Linked DNA regions of Homo sapiens: all the other regions are linked to region 1. Evidence: fine-mapped expression QTL. A gene starts in region 1. Each other region holds a variant in brackets. All regions are shown on one strand. Distances are from middle to middle.

Evidence for each region. PIP is the estimated chance that this variant, and not a neighbour inherited with it, causes the effect.
Region 2: its variant is the best candidate, but not a certain one, in a credible set for the expression of NANP in rectum (CEDAR, PIP 0.55).
Region 3: its variant is the best candidate, but not a certain one, in a credible set for the expression of NANP in whole blood (TOPMed, PIP 0.65).

The regions. Positions count from the first base shown.
Region 1 is chr20:25,621,544-25,625,786 of GRCh38, forward strand. NANP (N-acetylneuraminic acid phosphatase) reads right to left here and starts at 2,471. Exons shown (of 2, transcript NM_152667.3): 1 at 2,316-2,471. The coding sequence starts at 2,405. It overlaps ZNF337-AS1 (ZNF337 antisense RNA 1), which reads left to right and starts at 2,502. Exons shown (of 4, transcript NR_126465.1): 1 at 2,502-2,592. RefSeq lists enhancers at 1,744-2,419, 2,391-2,560 and a silencer at 2,161-2,220.
Region 2 is chr20:25,597,445-25,601,687 of GRCh38, forward strand. No RefSeq gene overlaps it. Among named protein-coding and RNA genes, the nearest start is that of NINL, 14 kb to the left of the region's middle. The variant CA/C (reference allele first, on the strand shown) is at 2,329.
Region 3 is chr20:25,665,532-25,669,774 of GRCh38, forward strand. The region is part of intron 2 of ZNF337-AS1 (ZNF337 antisense RNA 1); the gene reads left to right. It also overlaps the pseudogene MED28P7. Among named protein-coding and RNA genes, the nearest start is that of ZNF337, 29 kb to the right of the region's middle. The variant T/C (reference allele first, on the strand shown) is at 2,221.

The sequences.
Region 1 (4,243 bases):
CCTCCATTCATAAATTATTATTATTTTTTGAGACGGAGTCTGGCTCTGTCGCCCAGGCTGGAGTGCAGTGGCGCGATCTCGGCTCACTGCAAGCTCCGCCTCCCGGGTTCACGCCATTCTCCTGGCTCAGCCTCCCCAGTAGCTGGGACTACAGGCGCCCGCCAACACACCCGGCTAATTTTTGTATTTTTAGTAGAGACGGGGTTTCACCGTGTTAGCCAGGATGGTCTCCATCTGCTGACCTCGTGATCTGCCCATCTCGGTCTCCCAAAGTACTGGGATTACAGGCGTGAGCCACCGCGCCCGGCCCATTCATAAATTATTTACAATGATTTGTAATTATAAAGGAGGCAGTAATAGAACCAAGTCTCGAAGTAAAAATTTGTATCCATCCATCCAGCATTTATTCAACATTTGCCATGTGTCAAACGAGGATAATTAAGACAGCTTGTTCCCTCCCAAGAAGCTCACTATTTAGTAGTAGGCACCTGAGTTGCAAAATTAATTGAAATATCCTTTGACAGATGCATTAAGAAATATCTGAACAAAATACAGCACTACTATAAGTGAGGGTGTAAAGACCAGGGAGGCATACGATTTAGTCTTTGTTTTAAAAATATTGCTGTGGCAAGAATGTGGAGGACACACTGGATGTGGTAAACCTGGAGACAAGCCCACAGCAACAGTCTAGGTGAGAGATGAGTTCAGCTGTAACTGAGACATGCACGGGGCATGTGCAGTGGTGGACAGACAGCGTACGAGGGTGGAAGGTGCTATAGTTCGCTGAGTGGACACTGCAACCATGGGCTTCCCAAGTATTACAGGGTTATTGAGGACTAATATAATTCACATTTTATGAAGATATAAGGCTCCGAGTGGTTAATTCCTTGAGGCACTTTCAGCTAGGTTTTGGGAGAGCTGTGATTCATATTCAAATGTCTGATTTTAAAGCCCAAACTCTGGGCCTACAGCAAGAATTGGCCTAAAGCAATAATTTAATTGAAATGCACAGGACTCAGCTTACTAATAACACACAGGTAAATATGTAACATCTGCAGCGAGAGATACTGGAGGCAATATGGCACAGGGTGGCACCCCTGAGGTGGAGGCCAACAAGTTAAAAGTGTGGAATGCCTCAGTAAAGTCATGAAGACAGACTTTAAAAATGTCTACTGATTCCGGCATTTTGGGAATGCCTAGTGATCCAGCAAGTCTATTTCAGTCTAGCGGTGAAGATAAAGCGACATTACGATGGATTTAGTAATAAATAGGAGGTAGAGACAAGGAGATAACGGGTATAGATTTCTCCGGGAAAACATGGCTGTCAAGAGAGACAGGCAACATCTACAGCAGGAAGAATAGCCCAAAGGGAGGCATCCTTTTTACAGCTTTTTTAAAACTATAGGGCAAACATGAATATGCGGCAGGAGTGGAATGCAGCTAAAAAGAAAACGGATGAGGTAGTGGAAGATCCAGGGACACAAAAACTAACTGATGAAGCATGAAGAGGACGGGGCGCTCAGGTTTGGATGAATTAGCTTTTGAAAGTGAGTTTTCCACATCTGATAAATCCTTCCCTTTCCCCTTGAAGCTGAAGGTAGAGAAAGGGAAGCCGGGGTGGACTGGGGCTGGAACACGGGAAGGTCTGAAAGCGCCTCCGCGCGTGTAGAGGGGCAGTGCCGCGGAGGAGCGCCTCAGGAAGGGCATGCCCTCGCAGCACGGGCTTTTGCTGTGTCACGTGTCAGAAAGCCACGGTGACCACCACCCCGCCAGGGAGGCCAGAAGAAGTTCTGCGGCGACAATTCTCTAAAGCAGGGCTTAAGTCCAGGCTCGGTACTGACAGCCGTGTCCCTTCTTGGGTCAACACTGGGGCTAACTCTACCATGTCTCCTCCCAGCAACCCCGAAAGTCGCATGGGGGACACGACCCTCTGTCGAGCTCCACACCGACAGTCTGACCGGGGGCGGGACCAGCGCCTGGTCTCGCGGCTTTGCTGTCGCCTCCCGCGCCCACGGGCACCTCCGCCACCGTGGCAGCCGTCACGGAGCCCTTCCGCGTCCCGAGCGCCAAGGCACCTGCGAGCAGCCGCTCCAGGGCTCGAGATTGGGTGACAAGCGGCCGCCAGGCCAGGGAAAGCAGACCCGCAGGGCCCGCGCGCCTCCAGCCACCTCCGCACCCGCACGCTCCACAGGTTTCAACCAGCAAGAGCGGCCCGCGGCGCCGGGGTGGAAGTGGGGTCAAGGGGAGGTGAGCGTGCAGGACGGGGCGGGGCGCACTGACCCCGCCCAGAGGAGCGCCATGGGTGGGGACGTTACCTCCAACATGCCTCTCCTGCTCGCCCCGGCCGTGTCGATGAGAGTGTTGTCCAAGTCAAAGAAAACCGCCCGCACGCGGCTCAGCCCCATAGCGCCGGCCGCTGGCGCGAACCGTAGCCTTGCCACCGCCGCCTGCGCATGCGCAAGGCGGACTGCCCAGAGAGACGTGGGAGGAGCCGCGAAGTCACCAGACCATCTCCCGGCGCGGGTGGAATTCCCGCGATCTGTCTCATTCCCTGCGCCGCCGAGAAAAGTGAGATCCCGCGAGACTCCCAGGGTATGGTCTCTCAAGAGCCCTGGAAACGTGTGTCGGCGCCGCCGGATGCGGCGACTTCTCAGTGGCTGTGGCTGGCGTTGGTCCGAAGCGTGGTGTTCTTCCCTGGTGTCTTTCTGCTTATCTCTTTCCTCCCTGGGCCCTCCGGCGCGAGGGACCGTCATCACCTCCCCGAGAGAGGTTGTCCGCGCTGCCAGGCGCTGGGCAGCAGGCTCTCCGGGTGGCCGGGCGGGCGGCGCGGAGACGTCGGCGGGCCTGATGTCTGCCTTGAGCGCCCGCGGTCCTAGCCTGCCTGTACGCGCAGGTCACTGTAGGTGATCTGGGGACGGGGGAAGGTGGAGCCTGCGCCTTCCCGCCTCGCGCCATTTGCGGCCTTCGCCGGGGTGGAATCCCTGTCTGCCTGGGCCCGCGCCAGCACGTTTCTGAAGGATGTGACTTGGGTCTCTTACAACCCGTTTAGTACCTGTGCCCTAAGACGGAGGGGCTGTGTAGTGGCTGCCCCATGTTTTGCCCTTCCTGATTGTTTTCCTGAAACCTTGCGTTCTCAGGTCTTTGGATGCCTTTTACTCGGTTGTTTTCAGGCATAGCAAGAGGTTGAGGGACGTCGACCGCCTTTTAAACCCGCGGAAGGGCTGTAGCAACTCTTGTCTCCTAGTGCTGGCAGAACGGGGATCGTAACACTAATCTCTAATCTTTGTCTCTCTTGGGTACCTTTACTGTAATTTGGATATGTGGTCATCATTAGTGACCAGAAATTGACTGTCAGGTACAGGCCAATTACCTGATTTTGTTTAGCCAGTGAGCTAAGTGGTTTTTTTTATTTTTTAATTTATTTTTATTTTTATTTTCGAGATGGAGTCTTGCTCTGTCACCCAGTCTGGCGTGTAGTGGCACGATCTTGGCTCACTGCAACCTCCGCCTCCCGGGTTCAAGCAATTCTCCGGCTTCAGCCTCCTGAGTAGCTGGGATTACAGGCGCATGCCACCACCCCCCGGCTAATTTTTGTATTTTTAGTAGAGACGGAGTTTCACCATGTTGGCCAGGCTGGTTCTCGAACTCCTGACTTCGTGATCCACCCGTCTTGGCCTCCCAAAGAGCTGGGATTACAGGCGTGAGCCACCGCGCCTGGCTAAGGGTGATTTTTACATTTGTAAATGGATTTAAAAAATCAAAATAACAGTGTTTTGTTACACATGAAAATCAAGAAATTTTAGTGCCCATAGTTGCATTAGAACACAGCGCACACATTCATTTCTGTATCGTCTGTGGCTGCTGTTGCCATACAGAAGCAGACAGAGTTGAGTAATTGTAAGCGAGACCACGTGGCTGGAAATCCTAAAATATTCATTATTTAGCTCTTTAGAGAAAAAAATTGCCAGTCTCTCACCTCGCTGGTGGAACTCCTTAACAGACCACTGATGTTCAGTAGGTTAGATTAATTGGTTTATCTTTATATTAATAGGAGTTTCTTCTGCAGCGTTAGACTACCTACAGTTTCTATATTTTATGGAGCACAATCACAGTTGACATCTCATTGCTATGGTGGAGAATAAACCCATAGGCATTCCTCAAAACCATGACTCCTTTCTGTGCTTACCTCATTGACGTATAGGGCTAGCCTATCAATTGTGGACATTTAGATTAGCAATCAGCC
Region 2 (4,243 bases), 24 kb before region 1:
CTTTTCCCTCAGCCCCTTTAGTGAGGTTATATCACACATTTAGAATAAGGTTAGATTCATTTATCACAGTCTGTTTTCCATATTAGGTCTTAAATATGCTGTTTGATTATTTTTTAATCGGCATGCAATAAAGTTCGTGCAGTATGAAAAAATAAAGTATGAAATTGACAATTGTGTAGATCACCATATATCGACTATCCCAGTACCATAGGTAAAGTTCCATCACTGTGAAAGTCACTGGTATGGTTTGGCTCTGTGTCCCCATCCAAATCTCACCTTGAATTGTATTACCATAATTCCCATGTGTTGTGGGAGGGACCTGGTGGGAGATAATTTGAATCACAGGGGTGGTTTCCCCTATACTGTTCTCGTGATAGTGAATAAGTCTCATGAGATCTGATGGTTTTATCAGGGGTTTCTGCTTTTGCATCTTCCTTATTTTTTCTTGCTGCTGCCATGTAAGAAGTGCCTTGCGCCTCCTGCCATGATTCTCAGGCCTCCGCAGCCATGTGGATCTGTAAGTCCAATTAAACCTCTTTTTCTTCCCGGTCTCGGGTATGTCTTTATCAGCAGTGTGAAAATGGACTAATACAGTCACCCTATGTGTCCCTGTGCAATTAACTGCTCCCCTCCCCCAAGTCCCTGGCAACCATTGATGTGTCTTCTGTCCTTGTAGTTTTGCCTTTTCTAAAATGTCATATGAATGGAATTACACATGTAGACTTTGGGGTTTGGCTTCTTGTTCTTGTTCTTCTTTTTTTTTGAGATGGAGTCTCACTCTGTTGCGAGGCTGGAGTGCAGTGGTGCAATCTTGGCTCACTGCAACCTCTGCCTCTTGGGTTCAAGCGATTCTGCTGCCTCAGCCTCCTGAGTAGCTGGGACTACAGGTGCGTGCCGCCACGTCTAGCTAATTTTTGTACTTTTAGTAGAGGCGGGGCTTCACCATGTTGGCCAGGATGGTCTGGATCTCCTGACCTCGTGATCCACCTGCCTCAGCCTCCCAAAGTGCTGGGATTACAGGCATGAGCCACCATGCCCGGCCTTGGGTTTGGCTTCTTTCACTTAGCAAAATGAGTCTAAGATTAATCCATGTTGTCGTGTGTATCAGTAGCTCATTCCTTTTGGTAATTATGAATAGAACTACAAGGCTGGGCATGGTGGCTCACACCTGTAATCCCAGCACTTTGGGAGGCTGAGATGGGAGGGTTGCTTGAGCGAAGGTGTTTGAGACCAGCCTGGGCAACATAGCAAGACCTTATCTCTACAATAGAAGTTAAAAACTAGCCAGGCATGGTGTCACATACTTGAGGTGCCAGCTACTCTACTCAGGAGGTTGAAGCGGAGGATGGCTTGAGCCCAGGAGGTCGAGGCTGCATTGAGCTGTGATCGTACCATTGCACACCAGCCTGGGTGACAGAGTAAGACCTCGTCACTAAAAAATAGAAAAAAAAAATGAGTAGAGTTCCTAGAAACATTTCCATACAGGTTTTTGTTTGTTCGAACATAAGTTTTCTATTCACTTTGGTAAATACCTATGAGTGGGTCATTGGCATCTCTGGGTTATAGGGGAAGTATCTGTTTAACTGGAGGAGACAGTGCCAAATGGTTTTCCAAAGTGGCTACACCATTTTGCATTCCCCACCAGCAACCAGTGAGTTTCTGTCCTCTGCATCCTTGTCAGCATTTGATGGTGTCACTTTATTTAATTTGATTTATTTTACAGTAGAGTCTATTTTCTTTTTGAGGGCAGTCTTGTTTTGGTGAGAATATTAGGTATTAACATTCAGCTAGCTAACAGAAGTTAGCTGAGGGTTTTTACTGTAAGCCAAAGTAGACATCATCCTTACCACTTCAATCAAAATGCTGTTGACAGAAGAAAGTTCATTTTGAAAATTACTCTAATCTAAGGGTCTTTCATTTCTAGAGAAGATGGTAGAAGAGGAAATTGAGAAATAAAGGGAAATATGATGTTCTTGCTATGGATTTTTTCCTTCTACACTGGAATTTTCTGACTTAGAATAAAATTCCCCTTTAAAAGCAGGTATGGGGCTGGGCACGGTGGCTTGTGCCTGTAATCCCAGCACTTTGGGAGGCCAAGGCAGGTGAATCACTTGAGGCCAGGAGTTCGAGACTAGCCTGGGCAACATGGCGAAACTCTGTCTCTTCTAAAAATACAAAAATTAGCCGGACGTGGTGGCACACGCCTGTAGTCTCAGCTACTCGGGAAGCTGAGGCATGAGAATTGCTTGAACCTGGGAGGCGGAGGTTGCAGTGAGCCAAGATGGTGCCACTGCACTCCAGCTTGGGCAATAGAGTGAGACTCTGTCT[CA/C]AAAAAAAAAAAAAAAAAAAAAAAAGCAGCTATGATTGCCTGTGGTCAAGGCTTTTGAGGGCCCAGAACCCTCATTTGGTTCTGGCATCTGAAGAGGGTTTATATTGCACCCCAGTGGGTGAAAGACCAGGCCCCCAAGGGCCCACTGTACAGAACACCCAGAGGTGGTCCAGGGCCTCTGTGCTGTTATCTTGGCCAGGAATTGTTGGAGCCTGAATCACGTGCACACACGGGAGCTTTAACAGCACAGGGAACCTACTGAAAGGTCCAATGATGTGGCTGCATCCTTTGAGCCTGTGAGCTCCATGAGAGCAGGCTCCTTGTTTCCCTGCTGTAGACTCAGAGCCTAGGACACCCTGCAACACTCAATACTGCTCAAATGTTTGACTGAATGGTACAACTGAACCAGGGCCTGCAAAGACATCACAACCATTACTTCTTGTTTGAGTCTGTTTGGGCTGCCAAGACAAAATACACAGACTGGGTGGCTTGAATAACAGAAATGTGTTTCTCACAGTGCTGGAGGCTGGGAGTTCAAGATCGAGGTGTAAGCACTCAAAATCAAGGTTTCTCTGACCCTCTCTCCTTGGCTTGCGGACAGCTGACTTCTCACCCTTTCCCCACTTGGTCCTTTCTCTGCTTTCTCTGTGCACGCCCATCCCTGGCATCCCTTCCTCTTCCTATAAGGACACCATTCCTATTGGATTGGGGCTCCACCCTTAGGACCTCATTTATCCTTATTTACCTCCTTAAAGACCCCATGTCCAGACACAGTGACATTAGGGGTTGGGGCTTCAGCACACGAGTTTTGGAGGGACACAGTTCAGTCCACTGTACCTATCCTGACCCACAGGTCCCTCCCTCTCCCTTGCCTTGCAGACCCACTTACTCTTCTGTCTCCACAGACTCCCTTTCTCTGTGACCATGGCTTTACCTCACTTGCCCTTTCAAGAGTTCACGCAACAGAAGAGGAATGTGCTGAGCGCACAGACCAGGAGCCCCGCGGTATTGCCTGCAGACCCAATTGGCTTGGCCTGGTGCCCAGGCGTCCTCTGGGTCATCCCCTCGTGGGTCTGCCACAGCCCACACCACTTCTGTGCCCTCCCCCAGCCTGTGTGGCTCGCCTACAGGCTGGCCTGGACCCTGTGGACATTCGTGAATGGCACTCCCAAACCAGAGCCTGTGAGTCCTGAATTCCCCGAAGAACCTGCCTTGCACAGTTGGGCTCAGTTGGAGGCGGCTGCCCACTCACTGGAGAAGTTCAGTCTGAGAAGAGGCCAAGGATAGGTTCTCTAAGAAGGAGGCTGGGACTTTAGAGGAATTGACTGCAGGAGAGACAACAGGCACCCCTGGCCGGCATCACACAGGACATTCCAGGCCTCTCTGTGTCTCTCTTCGTGTCTCTCTTCATCTCTCTCTGCTTCTCTGTCTCTGACTCTGTCTGCCTCTCTGCCACTGTCTCTGTCTCATCTCTTCATGATACTCTGCCTCTGTCTGTCTCTCTGCCACTGTCTCTGTCTTTCCCCGTCTCTCTGTCTCTGCCTCTGTCTCCCTGTCTGTCTCTGCCTCTGTCTCTCTGCTGCTCTGTCTCTCTCTCACCCAGGCAGGTTTTAATTCAATAAAGAAAGCATCTGTCCTTCACATAGTTCTTATTCAGTAACCACTACACACACACCCCTAACACAACACTGCTACACATACCACTGTCATACACACAATGTACACAAACACAACTGTATAACTCACATTCACCACAACCTCACTACTACACCCACTAAGCACACACACACAACCCTTCTAGACACACCCAGTGTGACATGCACACCCCCTACACACACCTCTCCACACACATACACAACCATCTCACACACACCTCTCCACGAACGTACATACATGCACACAGCCATCTCACAC
Region 3 (4,243 bases), 44 kb after region 1:
CCATATACTTGTTGCCTATTTGTATGTCTGTCTTCTTTTGAGACATGCCTATTCAGATCCCTTGCCACTTTTTAATTAGATTATTTGGGTTTTGTGTCGAGTTGTTTGAGTTCCTTGTATATTCTGTATATTAGTCCCTTACAAGATGAATAGTTTGCAAATATTTTCTTCTATTCTATATGTTGTCTCTTCACTCTGTTGTTTTACTTGCTATGCAGAAGCTTTCTAGTTTCATATAATCCCATTTGTCAATTTTTGGTTTTGTTGGCTGTGATTTTGAGGTCTCCGTCACAAAATCTTAGCCTAGACCAATTCCTGAAGCATTTTCCCTATGTTTGCTTCTAGCAGTTTTATGATTTCAGGTCCTACACTAAGTCTTTAATCTGTTTTTAGCAGATTTTTTTGCATATGGTAAAAGATAGGGGTATAGTTTTATTCTTCTGCATATGGCTGTCCAGTTTTCCTAGTACCATTTATTAGACAGTGTCCTTTACCCAATGTATATTCCTGGTGACTGTTAAAAATCAGTTGGCTGTAAATACATGAATGTTTTTCTGTGCTATTTATTCTCTTCATTGGTTTAGTATATATAGAAAGGATGCCTCCCACTTTGTTCTTTATGCTTACATTGCTTTGGCTATTTTGAGATTTTTTGTGGTTCCTTACAAACTTTAGGAGTATTTTTTCTATTTTTGTGAAGAATGTCATTGGTAGTTTGATAAGGATTGCATTAAATTTGTAGATTGCTCTGGGTAGTATGGTCATCTTAACAACATTAATTCTTTTGCTCCTTAAGCGTGGCATGTCTTTCTGTTTGTGTCCTCATCAATTTTTTTCATCAGTATTTTTTGGTTTTCATTGCCTAGGCCTTTTATCTCTTTGTTAAATTTTTTCCTAGGTATTTAATTTTTTTGTAGCTACTATAGTTGGGATTGCTTTTTTGATTTTTCAACTAGTTCATTATTAGTGTATAGAAATGCTACTGATTTTAGTATGTTGATTTTTGTCTCCTGCAACTTTACTGAATTTGTTTGTTCTAAGTTTTTTGGTGAAGTCTTTAGGATTTTCTATATTTAAGATCATCTTGTCTGTAAAGAGGGATAATTTGCCTTTCTGTTTTCCAATTTGGATGCCTATTTCTTTATCTTGCCTGATTCTAAGACTTCCACTACTATGTTAATAAGAGAGGTGGAAGTAGGCATTTGATTCATGTTTCAGTTCTTGGAGGAAAGGCTTTCAGCTTTCCCCTATTCATTATGATGTTAGCTGTGGGTTTGTAATATGTGGCTTATATTATGTTGAGGTATGTTTTTTCTATGCCTAATTTGTTGACAGTTTTTATCAGGATGGGATGTTAACTTATATAAAATGCTTTTCCTGCATCTATTGAGAGGATCATAGTTTTTGTCTTTCAATCTGTTGATGTGATATATCACATTTATTGATTTGCATATGTTCAACCTCCTTTGCATACCTGAGGTAGATTCCATTGATCATGGTATATTATCTTTTTGATGTGTTGCTAGGTTCAGTTTGCTAGTACTCTTGAAGATTTTTACTGTATGTTCATTAGGGACTTTTTTTGGCTGTTGTTTCCTTAGTATCAGAGTAATGCTGGTCTCAGAGGTCAAGTTTGAAAGAATTCGTGCCTCTTCATGTTTTTGGAATAATTTGAGAATTAATGTTAGTTGTTCTTTATAAGTTGAATGTAGCAGCAATGCCATCTGGTCCTAGATTTTTCACTGTTGGGAGACTTTTTATTATGGATTCAACCTCATTACTTATTATTAGTCTGTTCAGGTTTTGTATTCCTTTTTTTTTTCAAGATTGAAAAATTGCTATTTATTTAAAAAAACTTCTGAATTAAATAGGCAAATGGCAATAACTGGTATATACATTAATTCAAAGTATTTTCACTGAGCACTAAATAGAATAGTTTCCAATCTTTTCACTAAGAACCCCTTTTAAAGAATGCCCAAAACTGGCCAGTTGCGGTGGCTCAGGCCTGTAATCCCAACACTTTGAGAGGCCGAGGTGGTCGGATTACAAGGTCAGGAGTTCGAGACCAGCCTGGCCAACACAGTGAAACCCCATCTCTACTAAAAAATACAGAAAAAATTAGCTGGGCATGGTGGTGGGAGCCTGTAATCCCAGTTACTCGGGAGGCTGAGGCAGAATTGCTTAAACCTGGGAGGCAGAGATTGCAGTGAGCCGAGATGG[T/C]GCCATTGCGCTCCAGCCTGGGCAACAGTGCGAGACTCTGTCTCAAAAAAAAAAAAAAAAAAAAGAAAAGCCGGGCACGGTGGCTCACACCTGTAATCCCAGCACTTTGGGAGGCCGAGGCAGGTGGATCACGAGGTCAGGAGTTCAAGTCCAGCCTGGCCACAATGGTGAAACCCCATCTCTACTAAAAATACAAAAAATTAGCTGGGCGTGGTGGCACATGCCTGTAATCCCAACTACTCTGGAGGCTGAGGCAAAGAATTGCTCAAACCTGGAGGGGTGGAGGTTGCAGTGAGCCGAGATCACACCACTGCACTCCAGCCTGGGCGACAGAGTGAGACTCTGTCTCAAAAAAAAAAAAAAAAAGCCTAAAACTTAGTTTATTTAAGTCTTTAATCAAGAAATCTAAAGCTGCTAATCAGAGTTTTGAATCACCATTAGATGACTAGGCTAACAACCTTGAGGTCATATAATGTGGGTTTTAAAAGCTTTGTTTAAACTATACTTTCTAACAGAGGGGATTCATTGGTCTCAGGTGATTAATCACAGGTTCAAGTGCGAGATACTGTATATACATAAATAAAATAAAGTAATAGGTATCATTTATAAGGATAAATAACATATGGCCCTGGTATATTCAAGGGGAATAATGTCTTAATTTTTATGGTTGTACAATTAGTGATGGGCAGGGAGACAGATACAAATGACTGACCCACAAGGGAGAACCTAACAAGGGCAATAGAAGAGATAAAAGTCCGGTGCCCTAGGGATGCAGCAGAAAGGGTGCTGGGAGGCTTTAGGGACCAGGTGGCATCTAGGTCAGATCAAGATATGAATGGATGTCAATGTGTGTGTGTGTGTGGGAGGGACCTTCAAGGCTGGAGAAAACAAAGTGAGCCAAAACACTGAGCCACAGGAGTACTCCCTGCTCAGATGACAGTGAAGCATTTGTTCTGAGTAAAAATATGTAATCTAATAAAAGACTGCATAAAACACTGGAAAACCTCACGCAACAAGAGCAGGAAACAATGCTTGTGAGTATTTCTTAACAGCAATTCAAAAGAGTATCTGAGGTGGCCTGTGGAACGAACGAGAGAACAAAATATCTTCCTAAAGGCAGAGGCACCACATGTTCTTGGTGGAGGTTAAGTAGCCAAGGATCATACCGCAAGCCCACCTCCACTCTGAGACCCCAGTCCCTTGGAATCAAATCCACAGCAAAAATCTTACTTAATGGAAAATCTCTCCCTTCCCAAAATGTAAAACAAAAACAATATAGGCAAACAAAACTGAAAACAAAAAGAGATAATCAGAGCAAGCTTTAGCCTCTCATACTTCACCTATGCCCCAACTGCCATGTTACTGAGAAAAGGGTCTGCCCCATTACTTAAATGGATTCATTACTGCAGAACATGACAAAATTTAGCATATCACTGATCCTACTATGTCCCTCCCTATAAAAAAAAAACAAACCACACAAAATATAACCTTACCCTGAATAAAAGTCAGCATTGACCTAAGGATCCTACTGTAATGTGACTACCCTAACCCAGGAAACCTTAATCCTGTTCTGACCTATTCACACAAAAAATCCCCATTCTTAGAGCTTTGGAAGCATTACAAACATTGTTGCATTAGATTCCTCTTTTGAGGTATTCTGAAGCCTTGAAACACAGCAAATTTACATATTTTTCTATACTACCACTGAAGGGTAATTATCATAAAAGGCCTACAACCAAAATCCTCATCCCCTGATTCTTAGGCTATTTTTTTTCCCTCAGATGAAATAATAGGAAACACACACAAAAAGATGAAAGTCATACAAAAATAAAAACATAGAATCTGTAAGTGTCATCACACTAACAGTCTTAACTGTGCTAAAGAGAAAAAGAATTTATTTGGTTTACTCAAGCTCTGGGCATTTTATAAAGTACTCAAGACATTAACAGCTTATAAAAGTAGTGGAAAAAATTTAGGTGGGAGCATAAAACTAACTCCTTCGTTCAAAATGCCAAGTTCATAA